Linked DNA regions of Homo sapiens: region 1 is linked to region 2. The links come from fine-mapping of genetic effects on gene expression. A gene starts in region 2. The other region holds a variant in brackets. All regions are shown on one strand. Distances are between the middles of the regions. Region 1 has its middle 56 kb from the start of PSMA1. Region 2 holds the start of COPB1 (coat protein complex I subunit beta 1).

The links. PIP is the estimated chance that this variant, and not a neighbour inherited with it, causes the effect.
Region 1: its variant is fine-mapped to the expression of COPB1 in lung (TOPMed, PIP 0.94).

Annotation. Positions count from the first base shown.
Region 1 is chr11:14,572,215-14,581,249 of GRCh38, forward strand. It overlaps a transcript of PSMA1 not described here. Among named protein-coding and RNA genes, the nearest start is that of PSMA1, 56 kb to the left of the region's middle. The variant T/C (reference allele first, on the strand shown) is at 3,746.
Region 2 is chr11:14,494,859-14,503,893 of GRCh38, forward strand. COPB1 (coat protein complex I subunit beta 1) reads right to left here and starts at 4,953. Exons shown (of 22, transcript NM_001144061.2): 1 at 4,849-4,953; 2 at 3,980-4,127. The coding sequence starts at 4,070. RefSeq lists an enhancer at 5,075-5,174.

The DNA.
Region 1 (9,035 bases), 77 kb after region 2:
TTCTCGGCACCACATCGCACTTATTTCAAAATTGACCACATATTTGGAAGTAAAGCACTCCTCAGCAAATGTAAAAAAACAGAAATTTTAAGAAACTGTCTCTCAGACCACAGTGCAATCAAACAAGAACTCAGGATTAAGAAATTCACTGAAAACTGCTCAACTACATGGAAACTGAACAACCTGCTCCTGAACGACTACTGAGTACATAACGAAATGAAGGCAGAAATAAAGATGTTCTTTGAAAACAGTGAGAACAGAGACACAACATACCAGAAACTCTGGGACACATTTAAAGCAGTGTGTAGAGGGAAATATATAGCACTAAATGCCTGCAAGAGAAAGCAAGAAAGATCTAAAATTGACACCCTAACATCACAATTAAAAGAACTAGAGAAGCAAGAGCAAACACATTCAAAAGCTAGCAGAAGGCAAGAAATAACTAAGATCAGAGCAGAACTGAAGGAGATAGAGACACAAAAAACCCTTCAAAAAATCAATGAATCCAGGAGCTGGTTTTTTGAAAAGATCAACAAAACTGATAGACTGATAGCAAGACTAATAAAGAAGAAAAGAGAGAAGAATCAAACAGACACAATAAAAAATGATAAAGGGGATATTACCACCAATCCCATGGAAATACAAACTACCATCAGAGAATACTATAAACACCTCTACGCAAATAAACTAGAAAATCTAGAAGAAATGGATAAAATCCTGGACACATACACCCTCTGAAGACTAAACCAGGAAGAAGTTGAATCTCTGAATAGACCAATAACAGGAGCCGAAACTGAGGCAATAATTAATAGCCTACCAACCAAAAAAAGTCCAGGACCAGATGGATTCACAGCCGAATTCTACCAGAGGTACAAGGAGGAGCTGGTACCATTCCTTCTGAAACTATTCCAATCAACAGAAAAAGAGAATCCTCCCTAACTCATTTTATGAGGCCAGCATCATCCTGATACCAAGCCTGGCAGAGACACAACAAAAAAAGAGAATTTTAGATCAATATCCCTGATGGACATCGATGCAAATATCCTCAATAAAATACTGGCAAACCGAATCCAGCAGCACATCAAAAAGCTTATCCACCATGATCAAGGGGGCTTCGTCCCTGGGATGTAAGGCTGGCTCAATGTATGCAAATCAATAAACATAATCCAGCATATAAACAGAACCAAAGACAAAAACCACATGATTATCTCAATAGATGCAGAAAAGGCCTTTGACAAAATTCAACAGGCCTTCATGCTAAAAACTCTCAATAAATTAGGTATTGATGGGACATATCTCAAAATAATAAGAGCTATTTATGACAAACCCACAGCCAATATCATATTGAATGGGCAAAAACTGGAAGCATTCCCTTTGAAAACTGGCACAAGACAGGGATGGCCTCTCTCACCACTCCTATTCAATATACTATTGGAAGTTCTGGCCAGGGCAATCAGGCAGGAGAAAGAAATAAAGGGTATTCAATTAGGAAAAGAGGAAGTCAAATTGTACTTGTTTGCAGATGACATGATTGTATATCCAGAAAACCCCATCGTGTCAGCCCAAAATCTCCTTAAGCTGATAAGCAACTTCAGCAAAGTCTGGAACTTATTGGGAACTGGAGCAAAGGTCACTTTTGTTATGCATTAGCAAAGAGCCTGGCGGTAGTGTGCCCCTGCTCTAGACATCTGTGGAACTTTGAATTTGAGATATATGATTTAGAGTATCGGGCAGAAGAAATTTCTAAGCAGCAAAACATTCAAGAATTGCCCTGGCTGCCTCTAAAATTCTATGTTCATATGCATGAACAAAGAAATAACCTGAAACTGGAACTTATATTTAAAAGAGAAGCAGAGTATAAAAGTTTGGAAAATTCACAGCCTGGCCATGTGGTAGAAAAGAAACACCCATTTTCAGGGAAGGAATTAAAGGAGGCTGCAGAAATTTGCATATCTCAAAGAGAGGGAAGTACTAGTAGCCAAGACAATGGGAAAAAGACCCTGAAGATATTTTACAGACCTTCACAACAGCCTCTCTTATCACAGGTCCAGAGGCCTAGGAGGGAAAAATGATTTTGTGGGTCAGGCCCAGGGCACACTGCTCCCTACATCCCAGCCACTCCAGCTCCAGATGTGGCTCAAAGTTACCCAGGTACTTGGGCTGCTGCTTCAGAAGGTGCAAGCCATAAGCCTTGGTAGCTTTCACACGGTGTTAAGCCTGCAGGTGCACATAGTGCAAGAGTTGAGGCTTGGATGCCCCTGCCTAGATTTCAGAAGACGTATGGTGATATGGTTTGGCTGTGTTCTCACCCAAATCTCATCTTGAATGGTAGTTCCCATAATCCCCATGTGTTGTGGGAGAGACCCAGTGGGAGGTAATTGAATGATGGGGGTGGTTACCCCCATCTCCTGATTGTGAGTTTTCATGAGATCTGATGGTTTTATAAGGGGCTTTTCCTGCTTTGGTCAGCACTTCTTTCCCCTGCCACCATGTCAAGAAAGACATGTTTGCTTCCCCTTCCACAATAATTATAAGTTTCCTGAGGCCTCCTTAGCCATGCAGAACTGTGAGTCAATTAAACTTCTTTCCTTTATAAATTACCGAGTCTTGGGTATTATCTTTGCAGCAATGTGAGAATGGACTTATACAGTAAATTGGTACCACTATAGTGGGGTGCTGCTATAAGGATACTAAAAAATGCAGAAGTGACTTTGGAACTGGGTAACAGGCAGAGGTTGGAACAGTTTGGAGGGCTCAGAAGAAGAAAGGAAAATGTTGGAAACTTTAGCACTTCCTAGAGACCTGTTGAAGGGCTTTGACCAAAATGCTGATAGTGATATGGACAATGAAGTCCCAGGCTGCGGTGATCTCAGATTGAGATGAGAAACTTGTTGGGAACTGGAGATGAACTCTTGCTTTGCTTTAGCAAAGAGACTGGCGGAATTTTACCCCTGCCCTAGAGATCTGTGGAACTTTGAACCTGGGGGAGATGATTTAGGGTATCCAGCAGAATAAATTTCTTTTTTTAAATTTTAAAAAAATTTATTATAGTTTAATTATAATACTTTAAATTCTAGGGTACATATGCACAATGTGCAGGTTTGTTACATATGTATACATGTGCCATGTTGGTGTGCTGCATCCATTAACTCGTCATTTACATTAGGTATATCTCCTAATGCTATCCCTCCCCCCTACCCCCACCCCACCTCAGGCCACAGTGTGTGATGTTCCCCACCCTGTGTCCATGTGTTCTCATTCTTCAATTCCCACCTACGAGTTAGAACATGCGGTGTTTGGTTTTCTGTCCTTGGGATAATTTGCTCAGAATGATGGTTTCCAGCTTCCTCCATGTCCCTACAAAGGACATGAACTCATCCTTTTTTATGGCTGCATAGTATTCCATGGTGTATATGTGCCACATTTTCTTCATCCAGTCTATCATTGTTGGACATTTGGGTTGGTTCCAAGTCTTTGCTATTGTGAATAGTGCCGCAATAAACATACGTGTGCATGTGTCTTTATAGCAGCATGATTTATAATCCTTTGGGTATATACCCAGTAATGGGATTGCTGGGTCAAATGGTATTTCTAGTTCTAGATCCTTGAGGAATCACCACACTGTCTTCCACAATGGTTGAACTAGTTTACAGTCCCACCAGCAATGTAAAAGTGCTCCTATTTCTCCACCTCCTCTCCAGCACCTGTTGTTTCCTGACTTTTTAATGATCACCATTCTAACTGG[T/C]GTGAGATGGTATCTCATTGTGGTTTTGATTTGTATTTCTCTGATGGCCAGTGATGATGAGCATTTTTTCATGTGTCTGTTGCCTGCATAAATGTCTTCTTTTGAGAAGTGTCTGTTCATATCCTTTGCCCACTTTTTGATGGGGTTGTTTGATTTTTTCTTGTATATTTGTTTTTTTCTTGTAAATTTGTTTAAATTCTTTGTAGATTCTGGATATTAGCCCTTTGTCAGATGGGTAGATTGTAAAAATTTTCTCCCATTCTGTAGGTTGCCTGTTCTCTCTGATGGTAGTTTCTTTTGCTGTGCAGAAGCTCTTTAGTTTAATTAGATCCCATTTGTCAATTTTGGCTTTTGTTGCCATTGCTTTTGATGTTTTAGTCATGAAGTCCTTGCACATGCCTATGTCCTGAATGGTATTGCCTAGGTTTTCTTCTAGGGTTTTTATGGTTTTAGGTCTAACATTTAAGTCTTTAATCCATCTTGAATTAATTTTTGTATAAGGTGTAAGTAAGGGATTCAGTTTTAGCTTTCTACATATGGCTAGCCAGTTTTCCCAGCACCATGTATTAAATAGGGAATCCTTTCCCCATTTCTTGTTTTTGTCAGGTTTGTCAAAGATCAGATGGTTGTAGATGTGTGGTATTATTTCTGAGGGCTCTGTTCTGTTCCATTGATCTATATCTCTGTTTTGGTTCCAGTGACATGCTGTTTTGTTTACTGTAGCCTTGTAGTATAGTTTGAAGTCAGATAGCATGATGCCTCCAGCTTTGTTCTTTTGGCTTAGGATTGTCTTGGCAATGCAGGCTCTGTTTTGGTTCCACGTGAACTTTAAAGTAGTTTTTTCCAATTCTGTGAAGAAAGTCATTGGTAGCTTGATGGGGATGGCATTGAATCTATAAATTACCTTGCGCAGTATGGCCATTTTCATGATATTGATTCTTCCTATCCGTGAGCATGGAATGTTCTTCCATTTCTTTGTGTCCTCTTTTATTTCGTTGAGCAGTGTTTTGTAGTTCTCCTTGAAGAGGTCCTTCACATCCCTTGTAAGTTGGATTCCTAGGTATTTTATTCTCTTTGAAGCAACTGTAAATGGCAGTTCACTCATGATTTGGCTCTCTGTTTGTCTGTTATTGGTGTATAAGAATGCTTGTGATTTTGCACATTGCTTTTGTATCCTGAGCTAACACTTGCTAAATGCCAGTCACTGTTCTAAGAAATCAGTATGTTATTTACTAACTTATTTGATTCCATGAAAGCCCTATAAGATAGGTCACTATTATTATCTTCATTTTACAGAGGAGAAATCTGCTCATGGTTCTGTAGTGGTACAGATGAGAAAACAATTAAGTAATCTGCTCATGGTTGCGCTGCCATTAAGTAGTGAAGGCAGGATCTGAACTCAGGTACTCCAGTCTCATAAAGAACATGCTTTAATACTACTACTAATTTTCTCCTTCCAATGATGATCTTTCCTCCATTCTACCTCTGCTATCCACTTCCACTGTCATACTGTGAACCCTCACATCACCTCAACCTGCCTCATCTTGAAATCACTAATTCAGGCATCTCACCCTCTGACCAACTTCCTGTCTCTCCAGAGAAGTTATAAAACAACAATAAAAGTAATAGTAATAATAGCATTTATATAGCCTAAGTGCTCTTCACAAGTTAACTTATTTATTCCTCACAATTCCCTGGCAAATGTAGGTATTATTACAACTGTTTTACAGATGAGGAAATTGAGGCAAAGGAGGTTAGGTGACATGCTCAAGGCCACACAGCTTATGGGTGGCAAAGCCAGAATTTGAACCCAGACAGTCAGGCTCCAGTGTTCACATCCTTAACTATTGTGTTAAGGATGATAAGCCTGGAGTTGAGGGAAAAGTTATTATCCCACTTAGGAGTTAACAAAAAAATCCATGCCTAACTCATGTTCCAAATATTTGTTTATCTGTTTGTTTGAAAGAGCCTCTAACATGATTTGCATATTCACTCATATTGAGAACCACAAATTAGATCATTTAAACAGCCACATGTTGTCGCTCATAAGTGGGAGTTGAACAATGAGAACACATGGGCACAGGGAGGTGAACATCACACACCGGGGCCTGTTGGGGGGTTGGGGGCTAGGGGAGGGATAGCATTAGGAGAAATACCTAATGTAGATCACGGGTTGATGGGTGCAGCAAGCCACCATGGCAAGTGTATACCTTTGTAACAAACTTGCATGTTCTGCACATGTACCCCAGAGCTTAAAGTATAATTAAAAAAAAATAGTCTCCCAATCTGGAGTTCTGGTCAAGTTTAACCCTATTGTTTGTTGTCCTGCTGGCCTTGGTTAGAATTGCTTCACATAAACAGGACAGGGCTGGGCTTGAGAGTGTCAGCATTATGACTTGTCCAGTTAAATGAAAAAAGCATCATTGTCAGTAGCTTGGCAGGGCTGGAGCAAGAAAGGATGGACAAATTTCTTGATACAGACATGATACCTGACGTGTTATTACTTGTGTTCATCTGATTTAATCCAATAGCTAGGAAGAAGACTAACTGATTAGCTGGGAATAGCTCAGGGCAGCAGTTTGCAACTCATTAATATGATGGCTTCTACTATAAGAAGAAAGCAGAATGAGAAATGCAAAGTAAAGAAGGTATTCTTGGCATGGGTCCAGGGGAAAAGCAGTCTGGCTGAAACCATTCAGTTTCGTCAGTCAGGAAGCAGCTATCTACGTAAACAGGAAGTAGAGAAGGTTGCAGGAGAGGGCAGTGGTTAGTTGGTGACAAACAAGAGCTGATACCAGATGGGTGTAAGTGGTTACATGTAAAAGAGATTCTGATAGAGGCCCAGACATTGCATGTTAATTATCCCGGCCTTCTCCTGGGAGAGCTTGTTTCACCAGAGTGTCTATGCAACATGTGTTGAGTCCTATTCTCAAATAGATACTTCCTTTAGAGCCTGGTTTTTGCCAGTTGTCTGCTGGGTAGTTTTATTTTATCTCATTGAATCATCTCAACATTCTGTGAGGATGGGATTAGGTGAAGAAACCAGCTCAAAGGGATTAAGTTACCTGGCCTAAATTCATTTACATCATGCTATTATACAACACTTTGGAAACTGTCTCCTCTCTTAAAAGTAACTATTAGGTATAACCTATTAGAAAGAAGGTATGTTGACATTCTAGAGATGCCATAACAAATTGCTACAAACCTCGTGACTTAAAACAACATAAATCTATCCTTTTACTATTCTAGAGGACAGAAGTCTGAAATCAAGGTATTGGCAGGGCCATGATCCTTCTGAAGGTTCTAGAAGAGAATGCTTCTTTGCCTTGTCCAGCTTCTGATGTCTCCAGGCATTCTTTGGCTTCTAGCTACGTAACGGCGATCTCTACCTTCATCTTCATATGGCCTTTCCTCTTTGTCTTTGTCTTTTACTCTTCTGTCTGTTATAAGGATACTTGGAATTGGATTTAAAATCCATCTGGATGATCTCATTTCAAGATCCTTAACTTAATTACAGCTGCAAAGACTTTTTTTTTTTTTTTTTTTTTTTAAATAAGGTAACATTAACAGGGGCCAAGTATTAGGACATGGACACATCCTTTTTGGGGCCAACTTTCGACCAACTATAAGAGGTGTCACTATTATAATATAAATGCAGATTTTGTAGTATTTTAATAACAACTAAGGAATTGAGAGGAGTATGTCTTGATTAGAGTTTCCATGTCTAGATCTCTATTCTTTAAAAGAATAAACTTTTACAAAATGCTAGTTCCCCTAGAAACCCCCCTCAAACCTTTGGCCTATTAGAATTTCAGAGCAAGAGGGGCATGTGATGCAAAGGCACATGTACTTTGAAAATGCCCTCCAAGTGAACATGATATATCCTTCCTACAAGCTACACACCCACATGTGTTTGAGAATTGCTTCTCTGAGGAAATGCCATTCCCAGGCTGATGGATGGGTAAGAGGGAACTTCAAGGTACACTGATTGTGTGCTGAGGAAAGGGAGAGAAAAATCTGTCTGCAGTGATAATGGAGGCCACAAATTGGGTTGATCTGAAGAACCTCAAATCCAAAGAGCAGGGCTGGAAAGAAAGATCTGATTACTACAAGAGAGCGACACTGTTGCTCATGTGATCTGTCTGCAATACAAATGTAATCATGTCACTCTCGCTTGAGATCTCATTGGCTGTCTATGAATAATGGATGATTTTCAGATTCCAGAACACAACACACAAGGATTTCACAAGCTGGCTTCTACCTACTATTTTAGAATCATCTCTCACCACTCTCCCTCAAAGACTGTCTGCTCCTGCCATACTAAAATTCTTGCTATTTCTCAAACACGTCTTATCCTTTATTGCCTTCCTAGCCTTGAACATGCTGTTCCATCTGCTTGGAATGCTATTCTCTGCTGGATAATTCCTGCTACACCTCAAGACCACTTTTCCTGCCACTCCATCTTCTGTCCTGCATTAAAAAGCCTCCTTATTCTCTTCAATAAGTTGGCATCTGCCTCTGCTGTGATTCTAAGTCACTCCATTCATAGGAACTGTTGGCCTTGTGTCCCATCTTAACTTCCCCTGAGTCCAGTACTTTGAGAGCTTCTAGAAAGATAAAACTGTGTCATACTCATCCCTAAATCTCCAGTGCCTAGTAAGTGCTTAATAAACATTTGCTGAAAAATGAAAGGATCAGATCATTATGGCTTCAAGTCTGAAATACATACTTGGTTTGGTGATAGTGGGATCCAGGCTTTAGATCTTAAGCCTGTCAGACTGGAGCCATAGGCAGAGAAGAACACAAGGGAGTAAGTCTGGAAGAGGCACAAGAAGAGGGAATTGTAGGAAACTGAGAGATTATCCAGTTTGGAGGCATAATGGGGGTTGTTTAAGAAGATTAGGAGCCCTCAGTTCATTCTCCCATCTTCAGCATGGAAACTACTGAAGTGGAATCGTGTTGGGATTCCCCTTAATACCAGTGGCAACACATCAGGAGTGATAGGAATGACAGATGAACTACAGATAGAAAGTGTCATACTGACACCAGGGAGCTATGTAGTTATGGGATGAATCGAGGGAAAGAGGACAAAGGGAAACACATATGAGAGAACCTTTAGAAAGTTCCCAAATAAGAAAAGAGGGATTTGATGTTGGGTCCCATTGGCTGGTGTACATATATTGGCTGGTGAATAGTCTACTATATTCTTGGTAGCTGTCATTCTCAGCCAATTCTGACGAAAGTGAACTACATTGCCCACCCTTGCATTTGTTCTAAGGGCATATAATTC
Region 2 (9,035 bases):
CTACTATTATGGGAGGATAAATATGTAACTTTTTTAACATTAGAAAGAGAAACGTCATACTCAAAAAGGCTGAAAACTAAAGTAGTGGATTATTTCTAAAATCTCATCATAGTTCTGCAGGCAGGCTGTAAAACTTTAGAATCTTTCTTAAGATATCATCTGGAAAACTGGGAGGTAATTCAAATGTTCTAGATTAGTAGTCATTATTTAGAATTAAGGATGACACATTAAAGATAAAATGCTAGTTTACTGTTATTTAGCCTAAAAACTCTGCAACATAAAGTATTTTACGCAAAACTATCTAAAATTTCACACCATTATCATTGCATACTGAAGAATTTATAGTACTAAAAATCTTCTGGATCCAAAACTCAAAGGCAGAGAAGTATGTAGTAGCACACTGTACTACAACTGTTTAGATCATCAAAATAAATGAATTATCTTGGGAAGGGGAGAACAAAGAATGATTACAAGTCTTCAATAACCTTAGGGCCATTATGAGGAAAAGAACTACAACTAATGGGTAGTAGTTACCGGGAACCAGATTTGGGCCTAAATATGAGAAATACATTTCTAATGATTAGAGCTAAGCGGCTATGAAACAGAGTTCTGAGCGTCAGATGCGGTGGTTCATCTGGCCCACAGAACTCTTCATTTAATAGCCACTTAAAATTTTTGTATTTTTACTAGAGATGGGGTTTCGCCATGTTGGCCACGCTGGTCTCGAACTCCTGAAGTCAAGTGATCCACCTGCCTCAGCTTCCCAAAGTGCTGGGATTACAGGCATGAGCCACCATGCCCAGTCTCAACTCTTCTTAATGGCAAAAATATACATTAAACTGGAGAGTATGTATTTATTTATTGGTTGGAGGAAGGTAGCTAAGGCAGCTTCAATTAAGACTAGGGCATTGTTCCAACTAAGGGCAGATTTTATTCTTTACCTTCCTAGCTATAACCTTAGGTATCCTGAGGATCTAACAATGAAAATTTTTAAATTATGAGGAAAAACACTAATGAATGTATTCACTATTTTGCATTCAACTATCCTACATGAACATGAAAAAAGGGAAATATATGTGGCTTATGTATATAATGGTATCATTTTAAATATCATAAAACTGGGTTTCTTTTCCCTTCTCTAAAAATAGACCTCAATAGAAACCTAGTATTAAGTAACCTAGAATCAGGAGGTATTCCATTACTGCTGATTAAGAAGTGGGAATAGGCAAGTAAAATATTAAGTTTCTTTTCAAACTGCAAACTATCTTCTAAAAGATCCTTTCTATATTTGAAGCATAATTTTCACTCTGCTCTGTTTAAACAATATTTATCAGTTTAAGTTGTATTTATTTTTAGCAGTTCAATTAAACAAGAATCATTACTTTGGAAAGCATATTAATTATAAATTTTTTTTTTCTTGACAGAATCACTCACAAAAAGGAGACACGGTATACATTTTTAAAATTCAGAAATATGATAAATTTAGTAAAGTTCCAGGACACAAAATCAACATACAAAAATCAGTAGCATTTCTATATGACAACAGTGAACAATCTGAAAAAGAAATTGAAGAAGTAATCTAATCCCATTTACAATACCCACAGATAAAATTAGATACCTAGGAATTAATTTAACCAAATAAATGAAAGATTTCTACAATGAAAACTATAAATACTGATGAAAGAAATTGAAGAGAACATCAACAAATGGAAAGATATTCCATGATCATGGATTAGAAGAATCAGTATTGTTAAAATGTCCATACCACCCAAAGCAATCTAGAGTCAATGCAATTCCCATCAAAATACCAATGACATTCTTCACAGAAAAAAAAAAAAAATCCTAAAATTTATATGGAACCACAAAAGACCCAGAATAGCCAAAGCTATCCTAAGCAAAAAGAACAAAACTGAAGGAATCACATTACTTGACATCAAATTATCCTACATAGCTACAGTAACCAAAACAGCATGGTACTGGCATAAAAACAGACATAAAGACCCATGGAAAATAACAGAACCAAGAAACAAATCCATACACCTACAGTGAACTCATTTTGACAAAGGTGCCAAGAACATACATTGGAGAAAAGACAGTCCCTTCAATAAATGGTGCTTGGAAAACTATGTGCAGAAGAATGAAACTTGTCCCCCATCTCTCAACTTACACAAAAATAAAATCAAAATGGATTAAAGGCTTAAATCTAAGACTTTAAACTATGAAACTACTACAAGAAAATATTGGGAAAAATCTCCAGGACGCTGGTCTGGCCAAAAATTTCTTGAATAATACCCCACAGGCACAGGCAACCAAAGCAAAAACGGACAAATGGGATCACATCAAGTTAAAAAGCTTCCGCACAGCAAAGGAAACAATCGACATACGTGATGAGACAACCCACAGAATGGGAGAAAATATGTGCTAACTACCTATCTCACAAGGGATTAATAACCAGATATGTAAGGAGCTCAAACAACTCTACAGGAAAAAAAAAAACTCATAATCTGATTTAAAAATGGGCAAAAGATTTGAACAGACATTTCACAAAGACATACAATTGGCAAACAGGCATATGAAAAGGTGCTCAACATCACTGATCATCAGAGAAATGCATATCAAAACTACAATGAGATATCATCTCACCCCAGTTAAAATGGCTTTTATCCAAAAGACAAGCAAAAACAAATGCTGGAGAGGATGTGGAGAAAAGGGAACCCTCGTACACTGTTGGTGGGAATGTAAACTAGTATACCCACTATGGAGAACAGTTTGGAGGGTCCTCAAAAAACTAAAAACAGGGGTACCATACGATTCAGCAATCCGACTACTGGGTATATATCCAAAAGAAAGGAAATGAGTACATCAAAGAGATATCTGGACTCCTATGTTTGTTGCAGCACTGTTTACAACAGTCAAAACTTGAAAGCAACCTAAGTGTCCACCAACAGATAAATGTATAAAGAAAATGTGGTACATATACACAATGGAGTACTATTCAGCCATAAAAAAAGAATGAGATCTTGTCATTTGCAAAAATATGGATGGAACTGGAGGTCATTATGTTACATGAAATAAGTCAGGCATAGAAAGACAAACTTCACATGTTCTCACTTATTTGTGGAAGCTAAAAATCAAAACAAACTCACGGAGACAGAGTAAAAGGATGGTTATCAGAGGTGGGAAGGGTAGTGGTAGGGAAGTGGAGATGGTTAATGGGTACAGAAAAAATGAGTTAGACCCGATATTTGATAGCACACAGGGTAACTACAGTCAATAATAATTTAATTGGACATTTAAAAATAACTGAAAGTGTAACTGGATTGTCACACAGAAGACAAATGCTTGAAGGGATGGATACTCCATTTTTCCATGTGATAATTATGTATTGCATGCCTGTATCAAAGCATTTCATGTACCCCATAAATATATACATCTACTGTGTACCCCCAAAAATTAAACATTACAAAAAGTTCAGAAATATAGTTGTTTTCTTATTTGCAAAAATGCATAAAAAATGAAAAGGTAAACTTTTCTGGAAAATACATGTTTATTCCAGTGTTCACCTAATTGTTTGGGTGGGTAATCCAAAGAACAAAGTTCTTTTGGTTTTACAAGCTAAGTAACATGAAGTTAAGTGCACGATGGAATTAAGATATTCCAATACACATCCTCAACCTGTTGCCTAGAGAAAATAATCAGCCACATTAATATATTGAAGTCTACAAAAATTATGACATTTTGAGGAATATCTAAACTATTACAATTTCTTTAGGTTTACTAAGATAAACTGAGATGTTCTATTTCAAACAACCAATATTTAAAGAAGTTCGCATTTTTAATAAAAGGTCTATCGAAGAGATCCTAGAAAAACTTTAGACAAAAATTAAGCATTTCTAATTATAAAGGAATATGAAATATGAGTTTTTTATTTTTGTTTTTTCTTTTTTCATTTCATTCTCAAAATAATATCGAAGTTTACCTAGATCATTTTTTAAGCTAATTTCAGATGGTGGTTCTGAATCCATTGGCACGTTAATTAACGTGTAGCATACGTTCTCAGCCGCCGTCATGGTTTCTGGTTATATTATAACCAATCCTTGACACAAGATTTAAGGATGCCAGAAAATCTAGAAAAATAAACACAGACATATCATTACAAATTAAAAAAAAAAAACCCACAAACAAGTACCTATAGTGACCTTTTAAAGTATTAGAAAGGGCAGGTCAATCTATATCGTGTTCCCATAAAAATAAATTCTAGTAAAAACCACATTATCAGCTCTGGCATAAGGTATATTATCTATCACTCCCTCATCGCATCCCGGTCCAGTGTTTGAGAATGCTGTATAGCCGAATGAAGGCCCACAGAACAGTGACAGTCCCCCCAGCCACACCCCACAATGTTATGGACCGTATGGTTTTTACACAACACACAATCTGCATGCTCAAGTTAAGAGACCTTGTGCCTGAATACTCTGCCAAAACCCTAAAGCGCTTTATCGCGGTCCTTGGTGGGTTCCGACTCTATGTCCGCGGGTCCCTTAATCAACGCGCTGCACCCCCACCTCGCCCCACCCGCTTCCTCCTCCCCTTCCTCCAGCAAAGCAGCCCTAGGCCTGAAAGGGTACGCCTAGGGGTCTTGGGAGGGAAAAGACCCCCGGCCAATACAAAGGACGGGATGGAGCGTCCGACCCGGAGCTTCCTAGCCCTCCGCCCCCACCCCGACCCGCACCCCCACCCGTACCCCCACCCGGTCCCTTCTGCCAGGCCCAGACGCAAGCGGCCTAGTCGCTCCCCTTCCGCATCTTCCAGCTAGAAAGCCAGTTCTTCCGACTCTGCCCGACCCACCACGCCTCTGGGACTGGGGGCTTGTGGCCCACTACCAGGCTCCGAGGGGCAGTGGTTTGGTGCAGCCGCGGATCCGTCTACTGCGGCTCCGTCTACTCCGGCTATGAACCGCAGCAGCGGCGGCGGCGGCTCCAGAGTCCTTGGCTGACGTGGAAGGGGGTGGGGTAACGACCGAAGCCACAGCCACCTAGCACCTACGGCGACTCAGAGAGGACATGCTTTCTTTGTGCAGCGCTTGCGCGCTGCAAGTATATCCTATTTTCTTCCTCTTCTCTTGTCCAGGGTTTGATTAGGCCGCAGAGCAATGAAACCACGTATTTTCTAGTTTTCCCTGCAAGCCAAGCTCTGAGTTAAGCACTATGCTAATTTAAACGCTAACTGGAAATCGTTCCTTCTTCAGGAACAGTCAAGGGGAGAAAGTGCTTGGAGAGAGGGAAACTTTTACAGGGCTCTGTTCCCGTGAAAAAGAGCTCTGGACTAGAAAGTGGAAACCCAGTAATCCTTTTTCTTGTCCACACCCTAATAAACTGGGAAAGTAACTAATACTATTGGGAAGGTAATTCAGTTATTTTATTAATTATCACTAGATTAAAATCCATTTCAGTTCTTAACATCGCTAGTAGTTTGAATCTGCCTCTCTGCAGGTAGGGCTGGAGTTATTTGAAAATCCAAAGTCACATTGGTATAATTTCTGCTTTTTATTTAATAATGGCCTCTTTCCGTGATCCTTTCTGAGCACCCAGTAGATTAGAAAAAATTTTTATGCATAAAGGGAGACAGTCACTGTTTTAAAGGATTTTACGTATCTCCAAAGACCTGTTACAGCTGCAATCAGCCATAGTACTTTCGGTTTTGCCCATTTGAAGTTCCATAGCACGCCCCGCCCCTACACCTCCCTCTGCCCACAAAAGGGTTTTATGGCCAATTATTAATAACAAAATATCTTAAAGCTTAAGCAAAATACTGCGAATAAAAACAGATCTGACGGCAACTGCCCTAGTTAACAGGTTCATCTCAGGAAGATGGAACACCAATAGTACCTCATTTATGTAGGATCTAGCTCTTTTGAGCTTTCTCTTTTTAGAACCATCAAGCAATCTACAAATTCTTTGAGCACCCAAAATTGTATTCAAAGGCCATGTGTTGACAGCACTTTAAGAGTGCCTCTCTGATTCTGTGCATTCATTTTTTTTAATATTTAATCTTAATGGTAGAGTGACATGAATACAGAGATCCCATATACTCTTTACCTAGTTTCTCCCAATGGTAACATCTTGCATAGTTATAGTACAATATCAATTTCAGGAAATTGACAGACATAATTCACCCAGCCTTGTTCAGACTTCACTAGTTTTACATGTACTCGTTTTTATATTCACTTGTAGACAATTTTATCATGCTTATATGTGTGTAATCACCAACACAGTCGAGACAGAACAGTTCTATCACAAGGATTCTCATGCTGTCCTTTGATAGCCATAGCCACCTCCCACACTAACCTGTGGCAACCACTAATAATTCTCTATGATTTTTATCATCTCAATGTTATATAAATGGAATTATACAATGTAATCTTTTGAGATTGGATTTTTTTACTGAGCATAATTCCCCTGAGATCAATCCCGGGTGTGTGTACAACAGTTTGTTCCTTTTCTGTGTATTCGTTTTTAACATGGAAGTTTTACAAATGCAGTTATCTGGTTTCCAAGCCCACTTAACTTACCAAAAAGTGACAATCTGTCAGCAAGAAATGAGGCCAAAAAAGGTATAAAAACTAGATTTACAGTAAGAAAGCTCAGTTTAGGGCCATCATGGTGTAGGACTTAAACCGTACAGACTTCATTTGCCCCAGAGGTTCATTCTGTTACAGAATAACTTTGAGGTTTCTCATGACCCCAAGTCATTAAGTTCTAAATATGAAAAGGCAAGAAAATGTAATGTTTTACATATTACTTTAGTTAGATCTGAACCTACAATTGTCATTGGCAGTGCATATATTTTTCCATATTCTTAAGTACAAAGCTTTTTGAATGGGTATAAGGACCTTAATATTAACCTCATTAACTCTTCCTGATCTGTTGTAAAATACACTTTGTTTGGGCTGTTTTACTCTAAGATGTAATTATATAATTTTGAATGCCTTTAAATTATAAATGCAGAGCAAAGACCTTGTCATTTTATCAAGGACCATAGAAATTGTGGTATCTAAAAAGTCAAGGCCTAGAGAATAGGGACTTGCCCCAAATCATGTAATGGCCAAACACTGAGTTAGAACTAGGACCTGAATCCTGTCATCTACGTTATTATTTTTATTTTTTTGAGACAAGAGTCTCACTCTGTCACCCAGGCCGGAGTACAGCGGCATGATCATAGCTCACTGCAGCCTCAGACTCTGGACTCAAGTGATTCTCCCACCTCAGCCTCCTGAGTAGCTGGGACCACAGGTGTGTGCCACCACACCAGGCTAAGTTTTAAAAATTTTTGTAGAGATGGGGTCTCACTATATTGCCCAGGCTGGTCTTGAACTGAACTCAAGCAATCCTCCCACCTCGGCCTCTCAAAGTGTTGAGATTACAGGCGTGAGCCAACACACCCAGCCACTGCCTTTTATTCCATGCCAGTTCTTCAGAGCTGCACACATACATGCTCAATAAATTCCAGGTGAATTGAGTATCTTTGTATCAAAGTGACAGGCTTTATAAAACATCATTAGGATTTTACTGTTTGTAATTATTCAACAGACTAAATGGAATATGTGAGTACAACAGACTAAACATGAAAGGGCATCACAATGAACTGTATATACAGTGGGGTTGAGTATTACTGGAGTGGGGAGGACTTTAAGTTCTAAAGTCAGTATATAAGACTAAAAATCACATTGAAAAAATTACTTAAATTGCTCCCAAAGTATAATACAGAATATTTATTTTTTTAGCTGAATACAAGCCAACTAGTGGTTTGTATTTGTGGAACAGGTGCATGTTCCACAATGATAAACATAACAATATCTTTGGTTTTATTTTTTGAGACAGAGTCTCGCTCTGTCACCTGGCCAGGCTGGAGTGCAGTGGCATGATCTCGGCTCACTGCAACCTCTGCCTCCCAGGTTCAAGTGATTCTCCTGCCTCAGCCTCCCGAGTAGCTGGGACTACAGGCGCGTGCTACCATGCCCATTTAATTTTTGTATTTTTAGTAGAGACGGGATTTTGCCATGTTGCCCAGGCTGGTCTCGAACTCTTGACCTCAGGTGATCCACCCGCCTCGGCCTCCCAAAGTGCTGGGATTACAGGTATGAGCCACAATATCTTTAAACAGCAGAATCATTCAGCAAAGACAGAGGCTCACCCAATGGAATGCATGTGGAAGAGAGATCTGCCTAAGCAAAGGGCAGATTATTATATTTCCCACTTATGCTCCCTCCCCAGACTAAATACCCATTGAGTGTAGAGGCAGGTGGGAGTTCCTGAGTTCACTATTTTGTGTGTGTGTGTGTGTGTGTGTGTGTGTGTATGTGTGTGGAAAGTTACATGTGCTTGATGCAACTCCACTGTAGGTCAAATAGCCACATGGTACTTGCGTCTAACTCCCAAGCTTGCATGGTAGATTCCTGAGGCTACTGCTGGAGAAACTGACATCTCTCACATTCCAGTACTTAGACATCTTTCCCTTAATAAGGCTCCCAGAGCTACTTTTACCATTCTCTAAGAAATCAGGGGGATTTAAACCTACTAAGGCTTTTGAAGATTTGGGAAAGTTGGGGGGAAAAAATAAACTATGAATTTTAGAGTTTAAAAGGTGTTATCACATAAATTCTCCCTTTTAACCCTCACTATAATTCTCCAAAGGGTTTCCTTAAAAAAGAGCTAAGTAACTTGCCCAAAGCCAATAGCAGCTAATTAGAATTAGGTCTAAAATGGGTTACTATCTATAAATGAATTTTTCTTCAGAAAGATGTATTATCTCAGAAAATAAAATAACTCCTCTAGATGTCAGCAGCCAAATTTTGGATTATGGTTTTTGTCTTTTTTTTTTTTTTTTTTTTTTGAGACAGAGTCTCGCTCCAGGCTGGAGTGCAGTGGCGCGATCTTGGCTCACTGCAAGCTCCGCCTCCCGCGTTCACGCCATTCTCCTGCCTCAGCCTCTCCGAGTAGCTGGGACTACAGGCACCCTCCACCATGCCCGGCTAA